Linked DNA regions of Homo sapiens: region 2 is linked to region 1. The links come from fine-mapping of genetic effects on gene expression. A gene starts in region 1. The other region holds a variant in brackets. All regions are shown on one strand. Distances are between the middles of the regions.

Region 1 (5,380 bases):
TGTTTCTTGCTTCTGTAATATGCTTCCCCCTGCACAGATCTCCCCCTGCCCCACGAAATGCTTAAAAGGTAACCTGACGCTTTGTTCGGGGCTCAGTTTTTTTGGATGTTAATGTGACTGGGCCAGTGCACCTTAATAATGATAATAAATCCTCCTCAACCCTTCAGTCTCTCTGATTCCTAAATTATCCCACTGCATTTAGAAGTATTGTAACATATATGATAAAAAGGTTAATATCCCTAATATACAAAAAGCTCCTACAAATATGAAAAAAATAATAAAAAGGAAGAAAAGATATGAACAGGTCATTCATAGAAAAGTACAAATGACTAAGAAAGTTAAGATTCTCAATACATCAGTGATCTGAGAAATGCAAATTAAAAAGAGAAACACTTTCACCTATCTGATGATTAAGACTTCAAAACCCTAATGAAAGCCAGTGTGGTCCTGGGAGGTAAAGTAAACTTGCACCTGTCAGTGTAGCATTCTGAGACAACAATTCAATGGTGTCCACTGACATTTCATGTAAACATATGCATTGTCTTGGCAATTCCACTTCAAGAAATCTACCCGGAAATCACTTACGCAAGTGCTCAAAGGTATGTGAGAAACTTGATAGGGGTTGGTTAAGTAAACAGTACCTACCCTGTGGAATGCTAAGCAACTGTTGAAAGAAGGGAGTGGACCTGTATGTCCCGACATGGAAAGATGTCCATGATATAGTGTGACTTACAAGGTCAACCTGTGGAACAATATGTAGCATGAGATACATATATATGTATATATACGTATATATGAGATATATATATAAGCTCTCTTGTGCATATATATGTAAATCTATATGATATATATGTGTATATATCTATATCTATATATACAATATATCTATATATACATATCTCTCATGCTACATATTGACATATAGTATATCAATATATAGCGTATATATTGTATATATATCTCCATACTATATATAGATATCTATATCTCCATCTATCTATCCATCTATCTGTCCATCTATCTGCCTATCTCTCTATCTCTCTCTCTCTCTATCTGCCTATCTATCTATCTATCTATCTATCATCTATCTATCGGGCTTGTATAGCATAAAGGTAATGAGCACAGGGTATGGCACCAAAATGCCTGGGTTTGAATCTTGGCCCTGCCGCATACTAGCAGGGTGACCTTGGGAGAATCACTTCAGTTCTGTGTATCTCAGTGTCCTAATAATGAGAATTAGTGAGTTAACGTATATCAAGCACTTAGAATAGGGGCTAGCTCATAGTAAATACTATAGCAGTGTTAGCTACATAATAATAGAATTCCGTGTACCCTCAAGTGTCAAGAGTGGTCACCTTGAAGAGTGGATAGAGGTGGAGGTATAATAGGGAGACCCTCACTTCCTGCTTCACCTTTCTGTATTTTTTTTAACTCTATGAGAACCTGCATTACTTTCAACGTTTAGGAACAGTGAAATGAAATTATTGGCTGGGCGCAGTGGCTCACGCCTGTCATCCCAGCGCTTTGGGAGGCCGAGGTGGGTAGATCACTTGAGGTCGGGAGTTCAAGACCAGCCTGGCCAACATGGTGAAAACCTGTCTCTACTAAAAATACAAAAACTTAGCCAGGCCTGGTGGCATGCGCCTGTAGTCCCAGCTACTCAGGAAGCTGAGGCTTGAACCTGGGAGGTGGAGGTTGCAGTGAGCTGAGATCATGCCACTGCACTCCAGCACTCCGGCAGCAGAGTGAGACTCCGTCTCAAAAAAAAAAAAAAAAAAAAGAGGGCCTCTCACTGCTGGAGATGTGTGTATTTTCTAAGAAAAATGGTCTAGAAGGTATTTTTGAAGGATTAACTTGGCGTCCACAATTGAAACTGCATCCCTAAGAGGGAGGCTCTCCATTTTAACTGACAAACTTAGGGTGAGTCCGGGTCTGAAACAAGTGGAACACACAGCATGGCTCTTTCGCTTCAGGACGTAGAGAATGGCATGTAAGAACTAACCCAGTGCTGCTGCCATTACTCACAGTCCCAGAGGGGAAAGCAGTCATGTCTTCTGTCTGCACTCTGCAGACCTAACCCATCAGTTCTCAAACTCCTGTACGTGTCCCACAGTATCTGGACATGTCCATCCCATGCGTCTTGGTTGCCCACTGCCACCCTTTCTGTTCCCTGCAAGTCTTCCCATTAGTCTTTCTTCCCAGTGCTTCTTGAGAACACTCCTGACCCCTGACACTCCCATGTGGACACACAGGTGGCTCAGACTTCCCCAGTCCTCCCTGGGCTATCATTTTTCTGTTTCCTCAAATGAATGAAATATGAGGAGTGGAAAGGACAAGAATCTTACCTGGAAGGCTTTGTTTGAGGCTCCTTAATAAAAGAGGGCAAGGCGAAGAGAAAGAAGACCAGGACAGCCAGAAGCAAGGACCACTGGACGCCTTGGCTCAGGTGCCTGCATCTCCACAGGCAGGACCTCATGGTGGTGGGTCGGGTTCTAGAGGAAGGTTCTGCATGTCCTGGGGCCTTGATGTAGGCAGCTGGGAGTCTCACCGCTCAGGTTTCCTGGCCAGGAAGTGCACACCCTTTGTCTTAACAATGAGCCACTCCGGCAAGTGCTGAGTTTATCAGTCTCTGCCTGGGAAGGGAGGAACCGCCTTCACTGCTGTATGAAGGCTTATAAGCTGGCGTGGCTTAAAGGAAGGGAAACTCCTTGTGTTCAAACATGTTTACCTTCCTTTTTTGTCTTTGAAGCCAATATCTGAAAGTCAAGCTTTATGAGAAATATAACCACATTATATGCAGTCTCATCTTGGTCAGGTTACTTAACCCATCTGCCGCCATATAAATGGAAAAAAGCAGTTATCTTCCTTTTGGGATTATCATGAAGACACCTTGAGGCCACCATGCACAGGGCTTTGTTTGTGGTAGGCACCCAACACACATGTTCAACACTTTAGCTCAACCTTCTCTGTTTCTCTTCTGAAATCATGACCATTACAACAATGACCAGCACGTATGAGGGCTCACTCTGAGCTGGGCAGTGGGGAGTCTTCACAGGCACTCATGGAACCCTCACAGCCACTCTAGGGGCTGGGTACTGTCATCACCTCCATTTGACAGAGGAGGAAATGGCCTCCAAGAACAAGCTGCCAGCCCAAGAGCACATGGTGAGCCACTGGCTTGGGGTCCAGATCCAACTGACCTAGAGATTGCATTCTTTTTTTAAGAAATAGAGATGGGTCTCAGTATGTTGCCCAGGCTGGTCTCAAACTCCTGGACTTAAGTGATCCTCCCACCTCAGCCTCCCAAAGTGCTGGGATTACAGGCATCGGCCACCATGCCCAGCCATGATTGCATTTTTCTTTCTTTTTTTTTTTTGAGACATTCTCACTCGTTGCCAGCCTGGAGTGCAGTGGCGCAATCTTGGCTCACTGCAACCTCCGCCTCCCGGGCTCAAGTGATTCTCCTGCCTCAGCCTCCTGAGTAGCTGGGACTACAGGCACCCAACACCACACCCGGCTAATTTTTGTATTTTTAGTGGAGACGGGGTTTCACCATGCTGGCCAGGATGGTCTCGATCTTCTGACCTCATGATCCACCTGCCTCGGCCTCCCAAAGTGCTAGGATTACAGGTGTGAGCCACCGTGCCTGGCCGATTGCATTCGTATCCACTGCTTAGTAGCACCTACGAGAAATCATTAACTCTACCTTGATCAAAGCAATGCAAAACAAAACCCACATAATTCTTGGGAAAAAAAAGTACACCTCAGAGGAAAAACATCAAGACCATTTGTAGAAAACTTTAAAAATTCAGAGAAGCAGCCCTCCATAAAGTACTGTGAGTTAGTAATTTTATAAAAATATTGTCCAGGGTGTTGAACTGTGGGAGAGGTTTTGGAGCCTGGGCTCACTGTTCACACCTGGCGGTGGGCATTTCTCCTAACGTACAGTTTTCAGTTCTGTACACAAGGCTCTTGGCCTTCACCCATGGCACGCACCGATAAATGATTAAACCACCTTCCTCAAGGAGGACGAAAAAGGCAGGAACATACGTCTGAGCAGCTGAGGGTAATACAGACGACTGATGGTTTCCTTTATCCCCTACTGTACACTGCAACTCACAGCACTGTTTCAAGTCATGGTGGCAAGGAGAAACATCTCTGTTAGTACTGACTCAACCTCTCTCTTTCTCTCTCACCGTGCCTAACCTACAGATGCTCATATGTTAACTCTATAAACATTTTCTGAATTGATCTGTATCAAGTCATAACTCTTTGTCCTAACTGGCCCCTTATCCTGAGTTCCTTTATGCACTTGACATGTACAATTATATTCCTGTATCCTGGTGCCTGCTTGCAACGCTATGCAAATAAGTGCACAGTGAAAAGGCATGTTCTTACCCACAGTACTAGTGTGACTAAATAGAGTATCTCTTTCATCGTGCCCTGTGTTCTGAAGAAGGCACTGGCTGTCAGTGCTCGCTGCCTTCCGCAGGGCATGGAGATCCAGCTGAGCTCCTGGGTGCAAGCTGAGCTACTGTGGACAATCTGTCCCTCTCGCCACATTAGAGGCAGGTTGAACTTGAAGACCTTGTGGCCAACTGGTGTGGCAGGATAATCCAGAGTCCTAGTTTCCTGGTTCTCAGGTTCCAGCCCACTGCTGCTGTAGCATGTGCCTGGGCAGAATGTGGGATCCAGAGAAGTGTGTGTTTTAGGAGAAATTGACTTTCCAATTATTTTGTTTTTGCTTTTTGAGACAAGGCCTCTTTCTGTCATCCAGGCTGGAGTGCAGTGGTGCAATCATAGTTCACTGAAGCCTTGAATTCCTGAGCTCACAAGATCCTCCTGCGGCAGCCTCCCTCCAAAGTAGCTGGGATTACAGGTGGGTGCCACCACACCTGGCAAATTTTTTTTGTAGAGATGGGGGGGTCTTGCTATGTCGTGCAGTCTGGTCTTGATCTCCTGGTCTCAAGCGACCCCACTTCAGCCTCCCAAAGTGCTGGGAGCACTTCATGTGAGCCGCCACGCCCAGCTGCCAATTATTTTTTAAACATCGTCACAATTTTGTGTTTGGTAAGATCTACCTTTCTCTCCTTTTTATTGTTTTATTTTATTTTATTCTCTTAAGCTCAATGGCAAAAACTTTTTCTCCTTTTTAAACTAAAGCTTTGAGCTTGAGTCTTTGAACTTTAGTATACATCAGCTGATGGGACATGTGAGAACTTACATGCAGATAAGAGTTGTTAAAAGATAATTTTCAGTAAAAGGTAAAATCATTACTCAAATAGATAGAAGACATAAAAATGTGCTAAAGATTTGATTCTACTCATGAGAGGACCAGGCAGATATAATAACCAGTTCAAAAGAGAAGTGCATGAGCACA
Region 2 (5,380 bases), 48 kb after region 1:
ACCCAGAGGGGCCTTGAGCTCCTCTGAGTGACTTTTTGTTTGTTTGGTTTCTGTTTTTTTCTGAGTGTGTTTCTGAGACAGAGTTTTGGCTCTTGTTGCCCAGGCTGGCGTGCAGTGGCGCGATCTCGGCTCACTGCAACGTCTGCCTCCTGGGTTTAAGCGATTCTCCTGCCTCAGCCTCCCGAGTAGCTGGGATTACGGGCGCCCGCCACCCAAGCCCAGCTAATTTTTTTGTGTTTTCAGTAGAGATGGCATGTCACCATGTTGGCCGGGCTGGTCTCGAACCCCTGACCTCAGGTGATCCGCCTGCCTCGGCCTCCCAGAGTGTTGGGATTACAGGAGTGAGCCACTGTGCCTGGCCTGAGGGACTTCCTTGACTACACAAAATGCTGCCTGGGGGGAGCTGCGCAGGCAACACAGCGTCTTCCCTGTTGGGCACTTTGTACACACAGACTTAGTGCTATCTATGGCGAAGTGGTGCCTGTGTGTCCTGACGTTTCCCAAATTTTGCACAGCAAAGTATCTCTATGGCTGAGGTCGGAGTGGGCAGGCCTCTTCCGGGGGCAGGAAGAGGAGCCGCTCCATTTGACACAGCAAACCCACTTCTAGGGATCTGCTCCAGACTGGAGAAATGTCCATCAGGATTTTTATATAATGACTCTGACCGCGTGCAGTTGAAAAGACAGAACTGGGGACCGGGTGCGGTCGCTCACGCCTGTAATCCCAGAATTTTGGGAGGCCTAGGTGGGTGGATCAGCTGAGGTTGGGAATTCGAGACCAGCCTGGCCAACATGGCAAAACCCCGTCTCTACTAAAAATACAAAAAAAAATTAGCCGAGTGTTGTGGCAGGTGCCTTTAATCCCAGCTACTCAGGAGGTTGAGGCAGGAGAATCGCTTGAACCCGGGAGGTGGAGGTTGCAGTAAGCCAAGATTGCGCCATTGCACTCCAGCCTAGTGACACAGCAAGACTGCATCTTAAAAAAAGAAAAAAAAAAAAAAAGGAGGCGTTGATAGGTGCTGACATGAAAAGTACATCAAGATAAATCGAGGGAAAAATGCAAGCAGCAGCCCCACGTGAGCAGCGCAGTCATCTTGCTGTAAATGGCAAAGTGGAAATGCACGCATGTGCTCGAAAATGCAGAGAAAAGGTTTGTTTTTTGGAAGGGCCCACGAGAAACTGTCAGCAGTGGCTACCTCTTGGGAAAGGAGCTTGGGGGGCAGCTTTTCCTTTCCGTCTTATAGAGTTCAGTATAATTTGGACTTTCCATTAATATGCATGAATGACTAAATATATTTTTTAAATGCTAATGGTGTCTTTGGACAGTCAGATCCAAAGACCCCATTTTTTCTTTATTTATTTTCTTATATATTCTAAAAAAGAAAAAAAAAGTAAGAGGCCAGGTGTGGTGGCTCATGCCTGCAATCTCAGCACTTTGGGAGGCTGAGGTGGGAGGGCTGCTTGAGCCCAGAAGTTCAAGACCAGCCTGGCAACATAGTGCACACCTCGCCTCTACTGAAAATTTAAAAATTAGCTGTGCATGGTGGCACGCACCTGTGATCCCACCTACTTAGAAGGCTGAGGCAGAAGGATCACTTGGAAAAAAAAAAGTAGAAAGAATGTAACATCCTAAATATATATATATTTGGTTTCGGCCCCCAGTTCTTGACACAGTTTTTATTTTGTTTGTTTTTTGAGACAGGATCTTGCTCTGTTGCCCAGACTGGAGTGCAGTGGTGCAATCACGGCTCACTGCAGTCTTGACCTCCAGGGCTCAAGCGATCCTCCTGCCTCAGCCTCTGGAATAGCTGGGATCACAGGTGCATGCCACCATGCCCAGCCCTGACACTGAGCTCCTAAGTCCCTTGAATTTCCTAAGTTACAGGGGTGCTAGCAGCATGTTTTGTTCTAACATTTGGTTTTGATCCCAGTCCCTGGCACAGAGCTCCTAAGTCCGTTGGAATTTCCCGGGTGACAGGAGTGTCTTTTGTTCTAATGAGGTAACTCCTGGGTGGGCTGATCACCAGAGAGATCAAGCTGCAATGAGGAGCTTGGAACTTTCAGCCCCACCACCCCCCAGCTTCCTCCAGAGACTGGAGAGGAGCTGGAGATTGAGTTAAGAATCGATGACGCCTATGTGATGAGGCCTCCGTCAACATCCCGATAGGGTTTGGAGAGCTTCCAGGCTGCTGAATGCATTCCCGTGCGCAGGGGGTAGCGTACCCCAACTCCATGGGGACGGAAGCTCCTGCATTCAGGACCCTACTGGACCTTACTCTACTTAGGTACCTCCATCTGGCTGTTCATCTGTAGCCTTTATCACTTCCTTTCTAATAAACCAGTTAACATAAGTGCTTCCCTGAGCTCCGTAAGACGCTGTAGCAAATTACTCAACTTGAGGAGGGGTTCATGGAACCCTTGATTTGTAGGCAAGTAGGACCAAAGTGTGGGGAACGAGGGGACCTGATACTTGTGATTGGCCCCTGAAGTAGGGGGCAGTCTGTGGGACTGGGCCCTAACCTGTGGGGTCTGCACTGATTCCAGGCAGTTAATGTCAGAGTTGAACGGGAGGACACCCACTTGGTGTCTGGGTGGCTGGAGAAGGTGTTGGTTGCAGGGGTGGGGCTGGCTGCATATTTGGTATCAGAAGTGAAGGGTTCTGTG[G/T]AGTGTTGTGTGCATGGACAGAAAAACAGTTGGTTTTTCTCATGGTTGATGTCTCTCTTTAATGACAGGCAAACAGTCACTGACCTATTCAGGGCACGGCCCCGGAACTAAGCCCAATATCAAGAATAGACAGGAGGCCAGTTCTCCTATTATGTGCAAAGGACACAAAGATTAAATGAAAAACAACAGCAACAATGAGCACAGTCCCTGCCTTACGGAGCTCGTGGTCCAGTAGGAAAGACAAACAAATAATTGCACTCCAGGGCGAGGAGTCCATGAGCCAGGGCAGATCCGTATCCCCAAAGGACCCAGTATCAGCTGACGTGCCCAAGCCCTCCTGAGCACAGAGAGGCTGGTACACATTTAGATTCTGGGCCAGGCACAGTGGCTCACACCTGTAATCACAGCACATTGGGAGGCCGAGGCAGGTGCGTCGCTTGAGCCCAAGAGGTTGAGGCTGTAGTAAGCCATGGGGGTGCCACTGCATTCCAGCCTGGGCAAGAGTAAGACCCTGTCACCAAAAGAAAAAAAAAATTGTACTTGACTTTGGAAGTCTGATTTTTTCTTTTTTTTTTTTTGAGACAGTTTCACTCTTGTTGCCCAGGTTGGAGTGCAATGGTACGATCTTGCCTCACTGCAGCCTCCACCTCCCAGGTTCAAGCGACTCTCCTGCCTCAGCCTCCCGAGTAGCTGGGACTATGGGCATGTGCCACCACACCTGGCTAATTTTGTATTTTTAGTAGAGATGGGGTTTCTCCATGTTGGTCAGGCTGGTCTCGAACTCCCGACCTCAGGTGATCCGCCCGTCTCGGCCTCCCAAACTGCTGGGATTACAGGTGTGGGCCACCGCGCCCGGCCTGGAAGTCTGATTTTTAAAAAGCTGTGGTCATGACCCATTGATGGGTCAGGAAAGCAAATGAGAAGGCCTTACTAGTATTGTTAAAAAAAAAAAAAAATGGGCGACCAAAGTCTTGGTGAAGTTTGAGGCTTTAATAACTTCAGAAGTATAGATACTACAAATGTACCAAAAAATGACATTTGAAAGGTTATTTACATTTAAAATACCTTGATATCTCTCACTCAGATTCTTACAGTACCCCCTCTAGTGCTATACATGGCTCTAGTTGTTCAAACTTCGAAAAACCTTTTATCGACTGTTGGTCAGTGACGGGAAAAGATTGCACTGGTGATTCCAGCTTCACCAGGTTCCAAAGAACTGGATTTTGTGCACACGTGACCTCAAGGGAGGTCAATTCAGCCCAGGAAAGGGGTCCTTTGCCTGCCTGTCCCTCCAGACACTAGCACATGCGGAGAATTAAAATGAAAAAATCTAGCACTTGACTGTCAGGAAACTAAGTGGAAAAGAAATTTAAATAAGTAAATATTCAACTGATGTTTTGTAGGTTTGTACATTTAAACATCTGAAGTTATTTATTAAAACTGCACTAAGACTCTGGGGACACCCCTGTATCCCAGAATGAAATAAAAGACAAGGCTGGGCGCGGTGGCTCATGCCTGTAATCCCAGCACTTTGGGAGGCCGAGGCGGATGGATCACGAGGTCATTAGTTCGAGACCAGTCTGGCCAACATGGGGAAATCCCGTCTCTACTAAAAATACAAAAATTAGTTGGGTGTGGTGGTGCACGACTGCTTCAGCTACTTGGGAGGCTGAGGCAGGAGAATCGTTGGACCCTGGGAGGCGGAAGTTGCAATGAGCTGAGATCACGCCACTGCAATCCAGCCTGGGCAACAGACTGGATTTTTTTTTGAGATCTGTCTCAAAAAAAAAAAAAAAAAAGAAAAAGAAATTAAAGACAAACAGTGTTTTGTGTGTGGTAGAGTTAGATACTGGTTTATAAAACTTCTGGGGCCAGGTGAGGTGGCTCACGCCTGTAATCCCAGCACTTTGGGAGGCTGAGGCAAGTGGACTGCTTGAGCCCAGGAGTTTGAGACCGCCCTGGGCAACATGTCAAACCTCATTTCTACAAAAAAATTACAAAAATTAGCTGGGCATGGTGGGATGTGCCTGTAGTCCCAGCTGAGGCTGAGGTGGGAGGATCACTTGAGCCCAGGAGGTCAAGGCTGCAGTGAGCCGAGATCACACCACTACACTCCAGCCTAGGTGAAAGAGTGAAAGCCTGTCTCAAACAAAAGAAAACAAAACAACAACACAACAAAAAACTTCTGGTGTAGCTGTGTGACTTTATATACAGGATGTAATTTAAAATTTCTTTCTTATTGTGACACCTAATTAAAAAAAGCTTGAAAACACTGCTCAATTGGCCATTTATTTTGTTGTCTGTGCAGAAATCCCCTGTTCTTTTGGAAGTTGTCCCTTGAATCCCGTGGCCCCAGTTGGGGCGGTCAAACCCTCCCCCTTCCATCTACTTATCTGGATGGGCGGGGGCATAGGCCCAGGAGCCCAATTTCTGCTTGGGGGACAAGGACCCTCTGGGACCAGAGCAGTGAGCTGCCTAGAGTGGGCCCGGGTGGAGAGACTCGTTGGAGAGCCCCCTCCCCTACCATGTGCTTGTCCTGAGGCCATTCCACCCTGCCTTTCCCTGCCTGAGAACCGCTCCATTCCAACTCCCACAGCCCCTGGACCACGGTGTCCGCCATCCACTGACACCTCTCCTGTCCACCACTCACCACACTCAGACTTTGCAGGCCAAGAACATCTCAAATTTGCCTGCATCAAATCTCAGCTCTGCTGAAG

The links. PIP is the estimated chance that this variant, and not a neighbour inherited with it, causes the effect. A credible set is the group of variants that fine-mapping cannot tell apart.
Region 2: its variant is the best candidate, but not a certain one, in a credible set for the expression of ST6GALNAC1 in whole blood (INTERVAL, PIP 0.85).

The regions. Positions count from the first base shown.
Region 1 is chr17:76,641,163-76,646,542 of GRCh38, forward strand. ST6GALNAC1 (ST6 N-acetylgalactosaminide alpha-2,6-sialyltransferase 1) reads right to left here and starts at 2,595. Exons shown (of 9, transcript NM_018414.5): 1 at 2,346-2,595. The coding sequence starts at 2,476.
Region 2 is chr17:76,689,032-76,694,411 of GRCh38, forward strand. The region is part of intron 1 of MXRA7 (matrix remodeling associated 7); the gene reads right to left. Among named protein-coding and RNA genes, the nearest start is that of MXRA7, 19 kb to the right of the region's middle. The variant G/T (reference allele first, on the strand shown) is at 2,664.